Regions from separate parts of the Homo sapiens genome. Here regions 2, 3, 4 and 5 are each reported to be linked to region 1. The links are microRNA targets in miRTarBase. Many come from high-throughput screens and were not tested one by one. Region 1 holds a microRNA gene; each other region holds the end of a gene's coding sequence. Distances are between the middles of the regions.

Region 1 (4,544 bases):
ATCAGTGTACTGCCCCCAAATCCTTCCAAATTGTCAAATGCACTGACAGAAAGAGTGGGGGCTCTGAATAGTGGACTCACCTCAGTGGGCCTCTCTTTGGTTTGGAATGTTGGTCCCTTCATTTGTGGCTGCCTTGGCATCTCTTTGATGCCTGCAGACTTTCAAGTCATACTCACCTTTTCTAGTTTTTGGTGGGTTGCCGGGCTACAGGCCACCCCGCGTATCACTGAAACTGGAGCTGAAGCGGGCGTGCTCTCTCTGTCTGCAGCATATGCGGAGTCTGGAGACATTGGTTATCATTACTTGATAGGGAGCATACAGAACCCACTCACCTCGCTTAGGCTACCTTGTCCAGTTTCTTTTTTTTTTTTCCAGTCTGCTTCTCATGACATTGTCCAGTTTCTAATCAGAATCCCCCATTTGCCCCTGCCCAGTCACTTAACCACTTAAAGACAGTAGAGCAAGTGGCCTGCCCAGCGGGAGACACAGCCCTTGGCCTCCAATTCCCGTCTTGGCCACTGTGTGGGCTGTTCCACCCTGCTGTAGTCTCTACTCTTCCCCATGCCCTGTGTCAGACCGAGGGAGGGTTTGTGATGACATATCTGGCAGTGGCAAAGAAGGAGGCTAGGGAGGTAGGAGAGGTTGTGTGCGTGGTGTTTAGTCTTACTTTGGAGATGGGGTCTTGCTGTGTTGCCTAGGCTGATCTCCAACTCCAGGGCTCAAGCCATCCTTCTGCCTTGGCTTCCTGAGTAGCTACCACTACAGGCATGAACCAGTGTGCCCAGCTACCTAATGTTTATTCTATGACTTGATCCCATGTATGTTTCCTTTTTGAGTGCTGATTTTTTTTTTTTTTTTTTTTTTTTTTTTGAGATGGAGTCTTGCTCTGTCACCCAGGCTGGAGTGCAGTGGCGTGATCTCGGCTCACTGCAAGCTCCACCCCCTGGGTTCACACCATTCTTCTGCCTCAGCCTCCCCAGTAGCTGGGACTACAGGTGCCCGCCACTACATCCAGCTAGTTTTTGTTTTGTATTTTTAGTAGAGACAGGGTTTCACCATGTTAGCCAGAATGGTCGCGATCTCCTGACCTCATGATCCACTGCATGCCTTGGCCTCCCAAAGTGCTGGGATTACAGGCGTGAGCCACCGTGCCTGGCTTTTTTTTTTTTTTTTTTTTTTTAAGAAGGAATTTTGCTCTTGTCGCCCAGGCTGGAGTGCAATGGTGCGATCTCAGCTCACTGCAACCTCCATGTCCCAGGTTCAAGCGATTCTCTTGCCTCAGCCTCCTGAGTAGCTGGGACCATAGGCGTGCATCACCATGCCCGGCTGATTTTTGTATTTTTAGTAGAGACGGGGTTTCACCATGTTGGTCAGGCTAGTCTTGAACTTCTGACCTCAGGTGATCTGCCCGCCTCAGCCTCCCACAGTGCTGGGATTACAGGCATGAGCCATCATGCCTGACCGACTGACCGAGTGCTTTTTTTTTTTTTTAAAGCAAATATTGCCTTTGGGCTTCTCTCTAATTTCATTTTAAAGTTTCAGTTGCATTTTCAAATGGAGATTTTATTTTAAACTGGAGTGCAGTGATTTTTACAGTCTTTTTGAAAGCAACAAATGAGATTTTTAGAAGACCTCTTGCTTGAAGAACTCTTTTGTGTGAAACCTAGAAGAGAGACTGTTCACCTTTCATTGCAGGTGAGGTCCCAAATTTTGCCAGTCTCTCTCCCAATCTGCCAATCCCTGAAGCAGGGGGTACAAAACTCAGAAGATTCTAAGGAATGAGGTCTTCAAATCAAATCCAAACTTAGTGAAAAAGAAGTCTACCTGTGTCAGGGGTGTTCCCTGTCAAAGTGATGGGTGAGCTTCAGCTGGTTGCAGTGGAAGGTGTGCTGGATGGATTGAGGAGGCGAGAGGGTGCAAGACAGCCCATTTAGGAGGCAGTTCCTGCAATGTGGGCATGAAGTGTTACAGCCCAAACTAGGATGCTAGAATCCGAGGGCAGAGGGCAGTAGAAAAGAACAACCTGGCGGAATTGTGTAGGACTAGAGGATGACAGCCGAGTGGCAGATACCAGGGTCAAGCTTGCGGGGAGAAGGGGGACGGGGGTGGGGGAGAGTAAAGAGGAGACGCTGGTGTTTGGTGGTGTTGAGAGGTATTTGTGGTTGTCACAGCTAGGGCAGGGATGCTCCTAAACATTCTGCAGTGGAGCCCCCTCAACAAAGAATTATCTGGCCCCAAATGTTGGAAGTGTCCAGGTTTAGGTATAAAGAATCAGAAGCTTTTCTCAAGTATTGCTGTTAGGTTGGTGCAAAAGTACTTGCGGATTTTGCTTTACTTTTAATGGCAAAAACCGCAATTATTTTTGCTTCAACCTAATATGATGCAAAATTGGCTACAACTGTAATTTGTTGAGTGCTGCAAACAAGGTACTTGCTAAGCTTAACTTTAGTGAACAAATTAGGAAGAATTGGAATAAGGTAAAACTAGCTAAATGACTCTTCCCTGAGAATAAATACTAATGACTGCCCCTTCAGATGGTGCCCCCTCATCTGCTTTACTGACTGTTTCTTAGTAGTAGTTGGCAAAACACCTCTTAAAATACCATACTTGTTTTCATCGTCTTTGGTGTATGAAATAGTTGAATATATCCTTTCAGAATAATATTTGGCCATTTACATCTCTCTTTTGCACACACTGAATTTGCCATCTTGTCTTCCTGTTCCTACACCTTTAATTGTCAGCAAGGAGACAGAGTCCTTCCTCCTATTTTGTTGAGCCCTGTGTGAATATTACCGTTCTAGGCTCCTGCAGTCAGTGGTAGAGACAGGGTCTCTGCCTGCAGAAGACTTTCACAATATACCCATGCTCAAAGCAGGTGCAGGTTGCGAGACACATCCAGATAGAATGAAGTGGTTCAGAAGAAATCCATGATCTCGACTGAGTGGGGTGGGCTGCCAGGCACACTGTGGTCCAGAAAGGTGAGGCTTTCGAGGGGATTGGCTTAGAGCTGAGGGATGAAGGCTAAGAGGAACCAGGTATGAGAGCTTTCTTGGCGGTGGGGCTACTTGAGCAAAGGCCAGAGCAAGGGAGAGCTTAGCATTTAGCTGAGTCAAAGCTGGGGTCTGTGGCCATGGTTACTTGGCCTGGAGGGAAGGGAAGAGTGAACATGGTAAGGTTGGCTAGGTAGGTTGGGATGGGATCAGACAGAGGTGAAGACTTGCTTGTTTTTGTTTTAAGTACCTTAGGGCTTCAGTACTTTGCGTGCATCGTGGCCTCAGGGGAGGGAATGATGTGATTTAGCTGCGTTGTTATTTATTTATTTTTATTTATTTATGTATTTCTTTATTTAAGATGGAGTCTTACACTGTTGCCCAAGCTGTAGTGCACTGGCATGATCTCGGCTCACTGCAACCTCTGCCTCACAGGTTCAAGCGATTCTCCTGCCTCAGCCTCCCAAGTAGCTGGGATTACAGGCGCCCGCCACCGTGCCCGGCTAATCTTTAGTAGAGACGGGAGTTTCACCACGTTGCCCAGGCTGGTCTTGAACTCCTGACCTCAGGTGATCCTCCCTCCTTGGCCTCCCAAGTTTTTAAAAGATCATGCTATGTGGATAATGAGCTGGGGATGGAGGGAAGAATGGACCTAGGGTGGAAACCACTGGTTAGAGTAGAGCCACTTCAAGTGCATGGGTTTGGGCTATAAAGTTAGTGCTGTGAGCAAAAATTAAAAACTCTTGCCGGGTGCGGTGGCTCATGCCTGTAATGGGAGGCCGAGATGGGCAGATCACGAGGTCAGGAGTTCGAGACCAGCCTGGCCAACATGGTGAAACCCTGTCTCTACTAAAAATACAAAAATTAGCTGGGCGTGGTGGTGCGCAGCTGTAATCCCAGCTACTCGGGAGTCTGAGGCAGGAGAATCGCTTGAACCTGGGAGGTGGAGGTTGCAATGAGCTGTGATCGCACCACTGCACTCCAGCCTGGGGGACAGAGTGAGACTCTGTCTCAAAAAAAAAAAAAAAACCTCTTAACATCACCCATCACATAAGGCACAGAACAATGTGTACTTTTTAATTATCATATACATAAATGCATACTGTTTTCATGCAGTATACATAATGTTTATGTATATAGTGTATACATGAATGTATTCAGGTATTTTGAGTGTCTGTATGTGGCATGCACCGTTCTAGGTGCTGAATATTCCATAGGTAAAAAGGGTTATTTAGCCCACATTTTTTTCGTTGTATGAAGAGAAATGGAAAAAACCAAACTTACATAGTTCGGTTTGAGCAAGTTAAATGCATGGATGATGTAATGTGGGAGCACTTTCCACTTTTCGTTGATGTTTGTGTAGGCAGAACTAGGGAGGTGGTTTTCCTTGGGAGTTTCAGCTGCCCACTGTACTCCTCCACTCTTGGCCACTGTGCCTCGCAGGTGCCTTACCTGACTGCCATGCTGTGTACTTTCATTTGGGCAGGCTTTGGGCTCCTTAAATTCAATATTGGCTCAAACCATCTTTCCCCCGCATCCGTACCCCATCCTGTG
Region 2 (4,000 bases), not on the chromosome of region 1:
CACCACGTGGATTACTGTAACGTGTGTATCTAAAGGTAAAAGCATGGCATAAGTATGAATTTTTTTTTTTTTTTTGAGACAGAGTCTCGATCTGTCGCGCAGGCTGGAGTGTGGTGGTGCAATCGCGGCTCACTGCAACCTCCGCCTCCCAGGTTCAAGTGATTCTCCTGCCTCCGCCTCCCGAGTAGCTGGGATTACAGGTGTGCGCCACCACGCCTGGCTAATTTTTGTATTTTTAGTAGAGATGGGGTTTCACTATGTTGGTCAGGCTGGTCACAAACTCCTGACCTCAGGTGATCCACCCATCTCGGCCTCCCAAAGTGCTGGGATTACAGGCGTGAGCCACCATGCCTGGCCCCAAGTATGAATATTAAATACCACTGGTGGTGCCTTGAAGCCCTTTCCCATGGGGATTGAAGAAAAACCACAGTTAAGACTCAAAGTAGGGGACAAATAGCTTGGTTGTAGGCCATTGACGTGATCCCTGAAAGATTGTTTGAACAATGTTACCCACAACCATCCAAACTTATTAGGAAGGATAAAGATTTTCTAAAGCTATATTGAGGTGAAGAGAAGAGACTATTCCTCCAACTCAACGTGGGGATGAAAAAAAGGTAAAAACCAGAGTTTACAAAAATTCACTTTTAATATTCAAATGAAAGCAACCCCCTTCTCCTGCCTCTCTGAACATGGCCAGCATTTCAGACACCCTACCACCTCCCAGGCTCTGGCTGCCTGATAAAAAAATCCCAATTTTTGCCAAAACCTCAAATACCACAAAACACTAAAAGAACAGATGTGAGCAACTTATTTAAGTTCTACATTTAGTAGCTGATGGACACATAAGGCTTTCAAGAAGACACTCTTCTCTTCACAACATATTAAATAAGTCCTAGCACAACTGACTGCTTCCAAAACTACCACCCAAGCGTGCCACCACTCTTGGCTGAACAGAAACTCTTCCTCATGACAAGGGCACTATGCTGATTTCAGCAGAACTGAAGGACCACGACTCTCCCAGAATATCTGTATTTTTACCTCTCAGACTTCTCCTGCAATGTCCTAATGATCATGTAAATAGTCTTCAATGAGAAACAGGACATCAAACCTTCCAAACAGGCAGAAAATGCTCTGCTAATACCATGGGAGAGGGTGATCAGTTTTTGGCAGAACAAAATGGCATCACCACCTTAGTACTGAAATTAGTAGGAGTAATAGAACAATTTCTCCTCAAATATAATGGCTAGGATCATACCTAAAACCCACTGGCCTCTACCATGAGTGAAAGAAAAGGAGACAATAGGCTTGATTGTACAATCCCCTCAGTATACGTGTGTCAGGTACACAGAGAAAAGACTGCTAACCAGTAACGTTTCAATACTAAGAGAAGCTATTAATGTGGCAAACAACCAAGAGGTAATATCTAGTTTCTAGGTTTAAAAAAAAACAATATATATATATATTTATAATAAAGTTTTAAATACAAAGTGCTTTTTATATATCGAGAATGATACAGTGTTGTGAATAAATCCCTGTTTGTAATCTTGCTTACAAGAGTTAACTGGTAAATAAGTATTTTCTTTCCTCTTTCCAGACAATGTTCAACAAGTAAACACCCTGGTGTTAGGAGCTTGAGAATCAGAGGCCATTGCCAGCAATGTCTATTACATTACAGCAAAGCCAAACTTTTCAAATAAAATTTCACCCCAAATCCAAGAAAAATTATTTTTATTTTAAGAAAAAAAAGTTTCTATTTAGAAGTAAATAACCCAGTACGATTGTGGAAAAGATGACATGGTAGTAGCACCCTGTCCTACCCTGGTGATAACCTCAGGTATGTTACACAGCTTAAAAGCATGTGCAATATTACCTTTCTTTTTAACCTAAATCATCTAACTGATGGGCAGAAAAGGTCTCAGAATAGTTGCTTTTCTTGTTTGTTTTTTTAATTTTTTTTTTCTGGTCGGCGTAGCTTTGTGGACTTTTAAGTTTAAGCAGCTTTATCTATAATGTGGGAGCATGGTTCTGTAGACTACCTTGCTAAACTTAGGACTCCTTTTACAAACACATTCCAGTGCTCATAAAGAACTGGTAGTATTAGCTCAGTGTACCCTCTAAAGAGTATCTCCCCCACCTTGAAAGAGTGTATTCTCAAGATTCTTCTTGGGCAGTTTTGTCCCCCTTAAGTATAACCACTCATAGAATCCTGCCTATCTGCCCTCTCACTCTGGTTGGTGGAGTGTCACCTTAGCACTCTATGAACTACTCAAGTTCACAGGGAACTCTCAGCCACAACTTGTGGCTCCTTCTCACTAAGTGTGGTCATGGACCACTCTCTTTGTAAAGCACCATAATCTAAGACAGAGCAGGGGCTGTGGCAGCCCGTGGTACCGTGGTCAGTCACAGCAGCTTGGTGTCTACCAGCCACAGAGAAGACCCCACTGTATGGAGGCTACAATTAACCAAACAGGATTTGGGAAAGCAAACCAATGAGAAATACCTATCTCTGGCACCCTAGAGAATTACAATTAGATAAAATTGTCCAAACTCAATGTTAGAACTAAAATACAAAACACTGCCTTATCAAGAGTCTGAAACACCTTGTGACAGTAGTGGCATCTTACAGAAACTGACAAGGGCACTATGTCAGCCTTGTACCGTAAATTATCTGTTTCATATTTAGAAAGTCACTCTCTTAGCATCTCCATAGTTTTAGTTAAAATATCCTTTAGAAAGACTAAAACCAGACAACAGAGCTCTGTTAACCAATTTCTCATCCTAGGAATCACATTATTTCTAGCTTTTATATAAGTAGCACTTCCTTCAGTGAAATAGCTACCAAAACAAATCCACATTACCTAAGTATCTATAGCAAGAGCAAAATAAAATTTCAGCATGACCTTGTAATAATGAGTGATCCAAAGCTGCTGCCACCCAAAATGGAACTGGTGGGTGGAGTCCAGTTCCAAGTGCAGGTGTCTCTGTCCACCTGTTTCGATCACAACCAGTCAGAAGGTTTCCCTTGCCAGCTGGGCGGTGGGTTAACTCACCCCATTACCCATTCCAGGCCAGGACTGGAACACACAAATTTGAGGAATTAGATTTTTTTAATTGGCCTACTTAGAGCTGGTCTTTCAGAAATATCTTCCTTTTTTTTTTTAAGCTTCTCTCATAATAGCAAGTAGCACGCATCATCTGTGCCCAGATTTGCATTAATTACCATAGTTTATTTTTGTGCATGCCACTCAAGGGCCAGATCCTATTTTTAGTTAGCCTCAGTTGTATTCTGCTCAGCCTTTGCAGCTTCGTAGGACTTAGTACAAGAAGTCACATGCCGGTGGAAACTGTCCCTCCACATAAACCTCTTTGCACAGATATTACACTCATACGGCTTTATGCCTGTGTGAATTTTCATGTGGCCCACGAGATGGTGCTTCATTTTGAATTTCTTACCGCAGACCCCACAGCCGTAAGGCCGAAGACCGAGGTGCATGCTCATGTGCCGATCTCTCTGACTCTTGTGAGTGAAACTTTTCCCACACTGACAAGGATACAGCTTGTCAGTGGCTGAGAATCCTAAGTGGGAAGCTTCTTCTTTAATCCCTGTTACCATTTCAATATTCTCACTGTAACCTGCTGCGAGGGCAGCCTCCTGTCTGTGCCCAATTAGATTCCCATCTGACCTCTCTCCGGAAAACTCTTCCATGGAAGAGCCATAGAAATCCACCTGCTCATCATAATTGCTTTCATCAGCCTGTTCATCAAACTCAGCTTCCACTTTCTTCTCCCCGATGTGGAAGTCCTCCTCCACTCCCGAAGGCTGCACCGTGTGCTCTGTCTGCACGGTGTTGATGGACTCTGTGACCTGGTGCTCGTCGTAGGTCGCGTGCACATCCATGCCCTCGCAAGCCTGTTCTAAGCGCTCGGGCTTCACGTGGATCCAGCGTTTGTGAGCCATGATGCTGGGCTTGCTGTACATGGGCCGGGTGTAGTGGAACTC
Region 3 (4,000 bases), not on the chromosome of region 1:
ATAAGAAGTCATAAAAAGAGGAAAATCGAACACACAGAGACAGTGGGGGTGGGTGGAGAAAAAAGGCCACGTGGGGACACAAGACAGTGTCTATCTATCAGGCAAGGAGGGGCCTCAGGAGAAAGCAAACCCACCAACTTGCTCTCAGACTACCAGTCCCCAGAACTGAGAAAATAAATTTCTGTTGTTTAAGCAACTTGTCTGTGATACTTTGTTATGGCCACCCTAGCAAACTAATACAATAACATAAACATCAATGTATATTAAAAATGTTTTCTGATAGAAGATATTATAATAAAAACTTGGAAACCACTGATCCACTTACCTAGGTTGTAAATGATTTCCTCATCCGCACACAGAAGGAACTTACAAGTTAAGCCCTCAACAAGCAAATGAACTTTTTTCCTATTTTCCATTTAATTATAAGCTGATCTCTTTCATTAAAGGAAGTTAATTTCTGGCTTTCTTTTTTTCCCCCCTCAAAAAACAGGTATCTATTATTCTGTTTCTGTAAAGATAAAGGATTATTGCTATTTTGATAACCTATGCCATGCTTAATTGAAAATTTTAAAATATTTGAATTTGTTCTTTGGATCAGTTGGAATATACTTCCTGATAAATTAATAAACCATTATTAGCAGAATCTCAGTTGCAAAGCATATTCCACTTAGCAAAAAAATTTACTAAGTAAAGCCAAGGATGATAAAGTTTATAAGCTACAGCTTTATATGTATAAACAATTTAGCTTGTGAATAGCTTTTGCTACCTAGAAGCATTTGATTTCTTTAGTTGTATTCTGCAGGTGAACTGCTCCACGATGTTCACAGGTTTTACATATTAAGGGAATTGTAGTCTTAATCTGGCATTTATAAAAGCACTTAATTTTAAACTTGCAGAAAACATGGTACTTAAATAATTTATACAATATTATAAATTTGCCTCCCTCACTACAAAAGTAAGCCAAACTACATTTCTTTCTAGTGTTGTTTCTATGCATAGTTTTATATTTGAAGTCAGTTACATACAATATCATGTATACTACGTAATATGCATTTTACACATAAAGGCACACAAGAGCCTCTTTTAAATACATAAAAACATATCTGTTGACCAACAGCTTTAACGCAAGACAGACATCAAATCCTCTAACATCATATGGTGAAATGCTATTTGTAGCTGCATTTAAAATCACAAATTCTTTCCCACATACATAAAAACTTGCAGAGAGAAAAAAGTTTTGTGTGTAAAGTATCAAAAAAATGCATTATTTTAATCTACTGATTTAAACTGTTTTTCAATAATCATATTTTAAAATCTTTACCTATTTTATTACCCAAAGGAAATCATTTAAATCTACCAATTGAAAAGAGAAACAGAATATTGATATAAATTATTTTTATTGTGTGAAAATGTCAAAATTCAGAATTAAGAATAAAAGTATAACATATAACAAAATAGGCATTTAATTGTTAAAATACACCTGGATTTACAAAACATTTTTTAAAATGTTTTTAAAATGCTTAAGGAATAAAAATTAATTTTTGAGAGAGCTATATAAAATGTGAATTCTATATTATATTTAATTTCAAAATCATTTATTTTTATTAAATGAAGCCAGTAGCTACACTATAGTAAACAGATAGAAAACACAAATTTTAAAAACACGTATACTCCCAAACGAGATAAATATTAAAAAGATAGCAAAAGTATGAGTTTAGTTTTAAAATTAAGTAAATGTTACAAAAAGCTATGCAATTTTCCCTCTAAAATCCTTTTCAAAGTTTACATTGTCTTTTCGTATTGCTTTTCATCACATTTCAGCCACCTCTCAAATTTAGGTTGTTACGAATTTTAGATCTGAAATCAAATGCTTTTACCTCACTCAGTGTGGTTGCTAAGTCCCATGTACAAACTCCAAGAATATATACAGTGCTGACTAGAGTACAGGTGACCTGATTATTAAAGTTCAGTGAGTTAAAAAATGTGAATAAAATCTGATGTTCTGAAGTACAATTTTTAAAGTAAATAATTATATTAAACGACATAAAATGTACTTAATGTTATCAGATACTAGCACATGTCTGTTGTGTCAGTACAAGTTACCAAAAGCACCAATCTTAACAAGGTGGTATAAAAATCATTCTGTTTATACTATTTTCATTGGATATAAAGGTTTGTTTTCAATTAAATGTAACATTATGAATCTATTATTAAAAATATACATCTAGAAGTTAGTCTAAATGCCAAATACAGAATCTTATGGATGCCATTCTTAAGTGCAAGAGAAGTGCTATCATTTTAAATTAAGAAATTATTTTGGAATTATTTATTTATAAAAGTAATTTTGGGCCAACATTTTTATTCTCATTACTTTAGTACACAAGCTGTTTCCCAGTTGTAAAACAGAAGTCTCTGGACCTGCAGTAGGTTTTCCAGTTTTTCTGCCTTTAATTTCATAGTTTAATTTCAAGGCATGAAAGAATTAGAATCACCTAAAAGAGTCACTGCAGCTTCTGATGGAACAAGGGAGTATAGGGAGCACCTTGATCTCTGAAAGTGTCTAACCTTTAAAATAGGACTTTACTGAGACTTTTAATAGTATCTCACAGAATGTATTTTGATTAATTTAAAAAACATTTAGGTACAAAAGGTATTTCCAGTCTCATTGAGTACTGTTTTCAAATCATGTAATTGTTAGAATAAAGATCTGAGAATCTACTACTTCGAAAATATATTATTTTTAAATTAGGTCAAATTACGATGTACACTTAAAGAACAACGCTATTACAAAACATACCTCAAGCCATATAAATATATCCTGTTTGTATAGTTCATGTCTGAAAGTAAATCAACTCTATTTTCCAGATATAATTTAAACAAATCATCTATAAAAAAGGTGTATAATCAATATCACAGTAATTAAAATTTTTAAAGATTTAAAAAAATATAAAAATAGTTTTAAAATTTTGGTTATAAATTCCTAGAAGTCCCCCTTCTATGTGCATATATCTTACAAAAAATATTTAATATCTAGAAATATAGGCTATTGAACAAATAGTAAAGAAAGTGCTGAGTCCATTGGCTCTTTTTGTAAAGTTTTCCTTCAGAAGTATGCTCATGAGTGGGGATGTATAAACCAGAGTCAACAGTAAATCTTGCTAATTTGGTCCAAATGCTGATTTCATGTACTGGTCATTGTGCTTCTTTTATTTTTTTAACCATGAAAAACACAAATAAGTAATTATCAAGTCAGGTCCTTGAGTATTAATCTTCTCACTAAAATTATTATGGTTATCTTGCCCCAGTCATCAATTTACAAGATGTTTCTTCTTCTGAGAAAGAAGAATGTCCCAGTTCACCTTGCTGATATTAAGAGAACTCCTCCATACGTCTTGTTTATGAGATCACATCATGAGCATCACTGTTAGGTCGCTGTGGCACAGCCAGGGGAGGCAGTGGCTTCCTATAGAAATCTAAGAAAAGAAAGAAAACCAAATGCACAAAACAGTTATGGTACATCAAGATTTTTGACACAGTTCATTATTTTTTAGACTTTAGACATTTTAGACATTTCCAAAGAGATAAACTTACAGAATCTTGACATGCCTCTCTAAAAGATTTCCTTCTCTCTCGTGCATTTTAAATCTTAAGAGATGGCACCAACATTCCATCCTGTTGAGCCAAATTATACTCTATTCCTTTTGCCTTCAATCCACACATGCATTAATCACATATTACTTATTATAATGGTTAAAATATTCCTTCCTTATGTTATACTCTCCAATCCAATTTCCATTCCTTACTTCTTACTTTGACTACTGCAATAGCCCCCAAATTTGGATTCTTACCCCAAATATAGCCACTATCAAGTTTGTACTTTACATTGCAACAAAAAATGTTTTTCTAAGCACCAAATATAATAGCATTTTCCCTTTTAAAAATAAAAGCATTTCTTTAAAAGTTATAGCAAGTTAAGACATCTTACCACATATATGAAGCC
Region 4 (4,000 bases), not on the chromosome of region 1:
TTGACTAGTATCCAATTCCTGAAAACAGTTGCTTCATATATTTTGTCCAGCATTAACTGTTGTTTGGGGTAGCAAGATAAGTCCACTTAAAATTATAGCCGGAAGTGGAAGTCTATTCATCCCTATTTTCTATTCAAATATTTAGTTTTGTTTCGGTTAGTTAATTCTTAATACAGCTGTGGTTTATTTGCTCAAACCAAAAGCCCAAGAGAAATTTCATTTAAAGGTAATTTGAAGGATACAATATCTTAGATATTCTTCAAGATGCACTTATCACATCACAGTTTCATAATGCTCAACACTTCTTAAAGTGCTTTCACATGGAATAATTTTCACGTACCTAAACTATTGGCCTATTAGGTATCTGGCTTTCTGGTGAGGTACTTGTCATGTTTTCCATTGAATTATATATGGATTTTTTTCCCAATTATGTCCAGAAATGAAATATATTCCAAGATCCCTATGAGAAACTTAAGAAATAAAGAAACTCCCATTTATTCTAGTCTGGTGCTGTCACTTTTTCAAATTTCTTAGCCTACTTCTACAGCAGCTAAGAATTGGGAGATATGACAATAGACAGGTCAGTTGAGAGAAAGTTTCCCAAATCAATACAGCCACTTACTTGAATCTGTTAGCAACCGTATCTTCTCTTGAGATGTGTTTTGTACAAGGTGCTATGGACTATTTCTAATTTCATTGTGGTAGGCTTCCCTTCTCTTCATTTTTCTCCACTTAACCTGATCTGTCAGGTTGTAAACAAATTTGATTTGAAGGCATGTTTGCTTCTAATAGGCAATTCTATAGTACAGCCAAGAAGGCAATTCTATATACAGCCAAGAAGGATATATGTTGCTGGGGTAATTTTTTATAATTAAAAAAAGTATAAACTTAAAAAATTGGTATACATAGGCAAACAGGTAAAAATAAACCTTTGTTTCCTTCCAACAGATACATAAGCTCTGAGTATTCTAAGCATGTGTAACAGAATGCTAAGCAACAGTCAAGCACATACTCAACTAATAACTATGGTCTATAATATTTTAGGTATTGTGTGTCTTGTAAATAGTAAAATCAAGTAATTCTTTCAAATGTGCAGTGTTTAGATTTGAAATGATTACAAGCACCAAAAAAACCCATGAATTAAAATACAATATTTTATTTTTGTCACCTAAAAAACAAGCAACCCAGAATTAAGATATACGTAAGTTTCTCAAATTTATCCTAATAAAATTTTGAATATTTATACAATTTCTACAGAAACATACAGTGTATCAAAATCTGCATAAATCAAATTTATAAAATGTGTAGAAATGCATAGTGATATTACCAACTTACAAAGCAAGGATATGGGAATTATTTCCAAAGCAGCCTACAGTAGAAAATAGTCATTATGGCAGCAGCTTCTGATGTTTTTGTTTGGTAGGTTTTCTGATTTCAATATATAGAATCATATTCATAGAGTATCTTCTTTTAACGAATTGCACAAAGTACCCATTTAAAATTTACATGCACAGTTCATTGCCACCTTTCTTAGGCCTATGCATAGTTAATAAGGTTATAATCTACTCAACATGGAAAATGGAGCCTATTTGCAAACACACAAGTAATTAAAGTACCAATTCTCTCTTAGTTTCTTTTTTTATAGTTGGTTTATTTTGCAATTATAAATGTTAAACATCCCTAGAGATGAAAGTTAAAATGGTTGATCACAGATCAGTAGCAAAATACAAATTGACAATTCAAAATTATAAATAAAACTCTGTTGAGGATGTTTAACTTTGAGTCTCCAAATTTAAGAGCTAAGCTTGGAAGAAACAAATTTATAGGTTATATTTCCCTCTTAAATTAAAAAACAAACTTCCTCTGGCAGTAGTTTGTGAATTCCTTTCATTGTAATGATACCATGATTACAGGATCAAAAATGCTTAACTTACTTGCCATTCTGCTCACATCATCACAGTTGTTTTTTTTTTTTTAAGCACTCAATGTAGGCATTTTAATCTTCTGGATAACAGAGTATCTTTTGAGAAATTAAAATCGAATTGACCATTTGCAATATTTGGTTTTCCTAATAGGTACTGTCTTAGTAAATGTTTAAATCCAAACAAATCTTCTGTTCACCGGAAAAATACTAATAAAAATACACTTTCTAAAAAGAAATTAAGAAACACTAGGGAACACCTAATGTAACAGAAAGTAGTTCACGTTTGTTAATAAACTGTATTTTTAAATAGTCCTTTGTTTTTAAATTTTAAAAACGTGCAGATAATGTCATTTGGATGAAAATATAAATGAAACATCAGTTCACTCTTGGCTTCACAGGTTGCACAGCTTAGGTTATAATGCACACAAGTTTTATAAGGCCTAATCTAACAAGGGCTTGGAAAGTCTTACCTCAGTCAGAATGAACCTTTGATGTGTTTATAACGGTGTTTTGTTGTTTTTGTCACCCTCGCTTTCAAGGGATAACAATAACAACTGATAATAGTTTTCTGTATTGGCAGGTATTGGAGAAAAGTAAATCCCAAATGTCAGTGGACAATTTTTCTCTAGTTGGAAGACTCCTTTGCAATCCTAGAAGTAGGTATGGACAGAGGGCACTGGGAATGCCAGTAGGTAAGGGAGTGAATGCTACACAACTTCCAACCCTATGGGACAGCCTTGGGATGTTCCATATTGTCATTTCTTTTTCAAGCCATACAAAGTTCAACTTTATAGCAAATGGCAGCACATAAATTCATTTCTGAGTAGTAAAAGTATTCCCCATACAGGTGACAAGTCCATCATTACCATCCTATAGATTTCATCACAAGCTCTTGAAATATATACTGAGAAATGAAAGAGGCACTAAATGTGTTGAAATTCACCTTTCAAAAAAGCAGCATGACTGTGAAGGAAGGCCACCTTGGCTAATAACCTGTGGCAGTGCTTCAAAAAGATGTAAAATTAAATAAAGACACAACAGGTTGATAATCACCAAGTTATATATGAAAGTCTGGCTACTCCAACCTTTTTTCAAGTGTGTTAAAAATAAAAATCAAACTGCCTTTCAGACCCCTGAGTGTAATCCCAAAGAAGACAACATGCTTTAACTCTGTCTAATAAAACAGAGCTAAAGGCACAAATTACCAACATCATCTTAAAACACAACAAAAAGATGTAAACATCTACAAAGTTTAAGGTAAAAGCAGTCTTGTAAACAGTAACTGCAGATGATAATGTTATTGTAAAATCACAGTTTATCAATGTCCTTCAAACTGATCAGGAGGTTCCAGGTTTGGAGCTATACAGAGTTAATAACAATAGTTGCAGCAGGTTTCAGGCGGTTTTCAGTCCTGTATAAATTTACTTGTCAGTAGGTAGGTTATTGGTTTATTTTTTTCTCTCTAAACACTATGGATGTTATTCATTTCCCATTTTTGAGTCGTTTTACTGGAGTCACAATTGGAGATGAATACTTGATGCAGGACCTCTGAGCGATCTAAACACTTTCCTGAAGGAATATGAGTAAATCTGTGCAGGTTCTGGAAAACACAGTAAGAAAAAAGTTTCAAATTTGGACCCTTGATATCACTGACATCAGAAATCATCACTTGACTTTCATGAGGAGACAGTTTAAGGAAATGGAAAAGCTTCTCAACCACACCTCAGACTTTGGATTTCTCTTGATTGTCAGTTTTCTGGATTTCTCTTGATTGTCAGTTTTCTAAGTCCTAAGATCTTTCATTGTTAAGTCACAATATACTGCTGGTATCTCACACTCAATGTATACAAACCTAAATTCATTATCTGCCCCTCCAAATCTATGTCTCTTGTTCCTATCCTGGCTAATGACATTCCCAGCTCTCTAGTCCTTAGGAAATACTGCACTTTTCCTCATTCACTCACATACCAGTCACTAAGGATGGATATGTGCAATGTCTCTGGTTTATATTCCTTCCCATCGCCACTGCAGATGCCCTGGTTTGGCCCTCACCATATGCTGTAGGTTTCTTCAATA
Region 5 (4,000 bases), 42 Mb from region 1:
TATGGCACATTCTAATGCAAAATGAAGACCTAGAGCTATTCTGAAGGATATACTGTGGCTTATTAGGGACAATAATAAATTTTCGTTTAGGTGACAAGGTACTCGGCCTTGATTAAGTCTTTTATCGTGATCTAGTACCGAAATAATAGGCTTTTCTGTGCCACTTGAATAAAATATAATCCTTACTACAGATTAGTTTATTTATTTTAATCACATTTAGTACCATTAGTAAATTCTCCCAAGTGATAAAATTCTTTTTTTTATCCCTTGTTTTTCAGATCTTCAAAGCTGCTGCGGGCATTCTATGTCCCCTTCCTGTCAGATCAGTATACAGTGTACGTAAACTACACCATCCTCAAACCCCGGAAAGCAAAGCAAATCAGGAAGAAAAGTGGAGGTTAGCAACACACCTGTGGCCCCAAAGGACAACCATCTTGTTAACTATTGATTCCAGTGACCTGACTCCCTGCAAGTCATCGCCTGTAACATTTGTAATAAAGGTCTTCTGACATGAATACTGGAATCTGGGTGCTCTGGGCTAGTCAAAGTCTATTTCAAAGTCTAATCAAAGTCACATTTGCTCCCTGTGTGTGTCTCTGTTCTGCATGTAAACTTTTTGCAGCTAGGCAGAGAAAGGCCCTAAAGCACAGATAGATATATTGCTCCACATCTCATTGTTTTTCCTCTGTTCAATTATTTACTAGACCGGAGAAGAGCAGAACCAACTTACAGGAAGAATTGAAAATCCTGGTACTGGATGGCTGTGATAAGCTGTTCTCCACACTCTGGCCTGGCATCTGAGAACTAGCAAGCCTCTCTTAGGCCATATGGGCTTCTCCACCAAAGCTGTTTGGCAGCTCCTAGCAGACCTTCTTATTGAAATCCTCATGCTGAAAATGAACACAGCCTAGTTGCCAACCCACATGTCCTTTTCACCTCCAGCAAGACTAAGCTTCTTTAAAGCACTTCACAGGACTAGGACCCTGTCCTGGAGCTATCTCAGGAAAAAGGTGACCATTTGAGGAACTGTGACCTAATTTTATTATAATGATGCCTCTAATTTTCATTTCCTTTACAACCAACTGTAACTATAAGGTTGTATTGCTTTTTTGTTCAGTTTTAGCATGCTATTTTTTGAATTCTAGACTCCTCCATGTGAAGATATCAACAGACAAAACTACAACTGTATAGGACATATTTGGAGAAAATTCTATCAATTGATACATTTGGATGACATCACATTTTTAAGTAATGTAATCTGAGGCCATTGCTGAGGAAATTAAGAATTTTCCTTTTTTTTTAACCACCCCCAGTGAAAAGGATCAGTGTATATTTATAGCACCTATTTTTTAGTTCTGTCTGTTGTGAGGCACATCCTGCATGGGGCACTTCTAGTCAAATAGGCAATGATAAGGACCTAATTAAAATGTGATAAGTGTATACTATTACTTTAAAAGCCTTTACAGTCAGTACTTCAGTTTACAAGGCACTTTCACAGCATCTCGTTTGATCCTCACAGTCACAACATGTGGTAGACAAGGCAGGTGATTTTTATCCCCATTTTACAGATAAGGAAACAGGCTGCGGGTGGGGAGTGAGGGGAGGTAAAGATAGTTAGTTGCCTAAGGTCACACAGCCAGTAAGTAATAGAGCTGGGACTGGAACCCAGGTTTCCTTACTCTCATCTATTGCTCCTCCATATTCCTCACTCAACCATGAAAACATTACTTGAAAGGACTGATGAGGTTAACCAGAGACCTAACTGATATTGTAACTTTCTATTTTAAGGAAGAATTGTGTCTGTATTTGAGTTCTTTGGAGCCTCCAGTCTGCCTGTGTGTTAGACCAGCACAGCAGTGCTGTGTGATGCAGCCTGACCTGTGGCAGGAAAGTAGTGCTTCTGTTTGGAAGTCATGTTCTTTTGCAGCCACACAGGATCCAAATATCAGTACTATTCCTGTAGTCAATCTGGGGTCACATTATAGGTGCCTTATTTCCCTAAGGGTAACTGATCTGAATATCTGCAAATAGGATGAATCTATTTTTCAGAAGTTCCATCTTTCATTTTTCTTTTTTTTTTTGAGACAGAGTCTCATTCTGTCGCCCATGCTGGAGTGCAGTGGCGCGATCTCGGCTCGCTGCAACCTCTGCCTCCCAGGTTGAAGCAATTCTCATGCCTCAGCCACCCGAGTAGCTGGGATTACAGGCATGCGCCATCATGCCCAGCTAATTTATGTATTTTTAGTAGAGTTGGAGTTTCACCATGTTGGCCAGGCTGGTCTTGGACTCCTGACCTCAGGTCATCCACCCGCCTCAGCCTCCCAAAGTGCTGGTATTACAGGCGTGAGCCACCGCACCCAGCCCCATCTTTCATTTTCAAAGAGAAGGGCATTCTAATAGGAACTGGTGCCAAGAGAGAAGAAAAGAAGTGATAACAGAAGAAATGGCTAGTTACAATATTAAAAAGCTCCTCTTTGAGATCTCCTCTGCAGGAATATCAGAGACGGAGTTGAAGCGCTGGAGAGGTAATAGGTCTAGACAGTACAGAACAATAACTGGGGAGTGTGTGAGGATAGACTGGGCTCCCCCTTGCTTGAAAGATCTCTGGCATTTAATTCTCAATTCTTGATTACTATTTTCCAGTGTAAAACTAGCACATATGATCTGACTACAGGACAGAGAATTTTAAGTGAAACATTTGCCTTACTTGCAGTAATAATGTGCTGTTCTTCACAGTAGCTAAGGCCCTCTATGTTTCCCAGAGGTAAATAAGAATCCAGGAATGGAGGTCCATCTGTGATGAATGGCTTTTTTCTAATCAAAGTAGTATAATGCTGTTTTATCTGTTTTGTCATCTTGTTTTTTTTTTTTTTTAAAAAAACAAAACCTTAATTATAATATAGCGCAAAGAAAGGCCAGGACTGATGCAGGGATTCCTTGGAAATATCAGTTCCTATCACTTTTAAAACCTGATTTTGGATCTCTCTGTTCTATGTATGTCTTTAGTGAGAGCACAATACATGGCAGAACGCTGTGCCAAATGTTATAGGTAAGGAATATAGAAATGAATGTTTTTTGTTGTGAAGGTGTTTTCATGTGATATTTTATAAACACATTTTAAAAAATCTCCATCACTTTTTAGTATAGGAAGGATAGCTTTGCCTGGGAAAAACAGTTTCAACACACCTGCTCAGAGTAGCAGTTCTCCCTCAAAAAAGCAGTGTTCAGCCTGCACTGACTGTTCTGCTTGCCAAAAGGAGGAAGCATGCAAGATACTTATTTCTCCATAGATTGTGGAGTATAGAGGGATGTGGGACTACAGATTATTATTTTTTTTCCCCGAGACAGAGTCTTGCTCTGTCGCCCAGGTTGGAACACAATGGCACGACCTCAGCTCACTGCAACCTCTGTCTCCCGGGTTCAAGCAATTCTCCTGCTTCAGCCTCCTGAGTAGCTGGGATTACAGGCACACACCACCACCGCACTCAGCTAATTTTTGTATTTTTAGTAGAGGTGGGGTTTTACCATGTTGGCCAGGCTGGTCTTAAACTCCTGACCTTGTAATCATCCCGCCTCGGCCTCCTAAAGTGCTAGGATTACAGGCATGAGCCACCGCACCCGGCCCAGATAATTTTTAATAGCCTTTGATCATGGGGTGAGTGAGGGAGTAGGTATACTTGGCAAATGCATGGTTCTCTGATTTCTAGCTCTAAAGCAGCCTTATCTGAATCCCCAAATCTTGTGATGCTGAGTACCATTACTGAACCAGTCTGCACGGTAGGCATCTGCTACCAAAATTTACCTCCTACCTGGTAGGTGTCATCTGATAAGAAAGAAGACAGGTTATTTTAATTTTTTGAGATAATCACAGAAAATTGCAGCCCATACTCTTTATTACCGAATTCAAGTTTGGAAATAGACCCTTTGTTTTAAATCATGATGGGTCTTTATCCCAATCATTTATCTGGGTCATTTTTCCAACTTTGGAGTTCTAGGAAAG

What was found. The annotated mature microRNA hsa-miR-548av-5p reads AAAAGUACUUGCGGAUUU and lies in region 1 at 2,310-2,327, shown strand. An mRNA with a match to its seed (bases 2 to 7 or 8) in the 3' UTR can be bound and repressed. Matches are read on the target gene's strand: a 7mer-m8 pairs with bases 2 to 8, a 7mer-A1 pairs with bases 2 to 7 and ends in A, and an 8mer does both.
Region 2: the mRNA of ZBTB43 is a reported target of hsa-miR-548av-5p. The part of its 3' UTR that is shown has no 7-base or 8-base seed match.
Region 3: miRTarBase lists ARL13B as a target of hsa-miR-548av-5p. Seed matches in the 3' UTR shown: 7mer-A1 at 2,018-2,024 and 7mer-A1 at 1,245-1,251.
Region 4: miRTarBase lists GALNT7 as a target of hsa-miR-548av-5p. Seed matches in the 3' UTR shown: 8mer at 1,609-1,616 and 7mer-m8 at 1,485-1,491.
Region 5: the mRNA of ALG9 is a reported target of hsa-miR-548av-5p. Seed matches in the 3' UTR shown: 7mer-A1 at 1,447-1,453.

Annotation. Positions count from the first base shown.
Region 1 is chr11:70,281,677-70,286,220 of GRCh38, forward strand. It overlaps MIR548K (microRNA 548k), which reads left to right and starts at 2,279; the gene lies at 2,279-2,394. The region is part of intron 2 of PPFIA1 (PPFI scaffold protein A1); the gene reads left to right.
Region 2 is chr9:126,833,179-126,837,178 of GRCh38, reverse strand. It overlaps ZBTB43 (zinc finger and BTB domain containing 43), which reads right to left. Exons shown (of 3, transcript NM_014007.4): 3 at 1-4,000. The coding sequence ends at 3,266. Among named protein-coding and RNA genes, the nearest start is that of ZBTB34, 25 kb to the left of the region's middle. RefSeq lists enhancers at 3,472-3,971, 3,972-4,000.
Region 3 is chr3:94,052,660-94,056,659 of GRCh38, reverse strand. It overlaps ARL13B (ARF like GTPase 13B), which reads right to left. Exons shown (of 10, transcript NM_001174150.2): 10 at 982-3,473. The coding sequence ends at 3,397. Among named protein-coding and RNA genes, the nearest start is that of DHFR2, 8.3 kb to the left of the region's middle.
Region 4 is chr4:173,321,104-173,325,103 of GRCh38, reverse strand. GALNT7 (polypeptide N-acetylgalactosaminyltransferase 7) reads right to left here. Exons shown (of 12, transcript NM_017423.3): 12 at 1,137-3,524. The coding sequence ends at 3,387. Among named protein-coding and RNA genes, the nearest start is that of HMGB2, 11 kb to the left of the region's middle.
Region 5 is chr11:111,782,799-111,786,798 of GRCh38, reverse strand. It overlaps ALG9 (ALG9 alpha-1,2-mannosyltransferase), which reads left to right. Exons shown (of 15, transcript NM_024740.2): 15 at 279-4,000. The coding sequence ends at 402. Among named protein-coding and RNA genes, the nearest start is that of PPP2R1B, 18 kb to the right of the region's middle.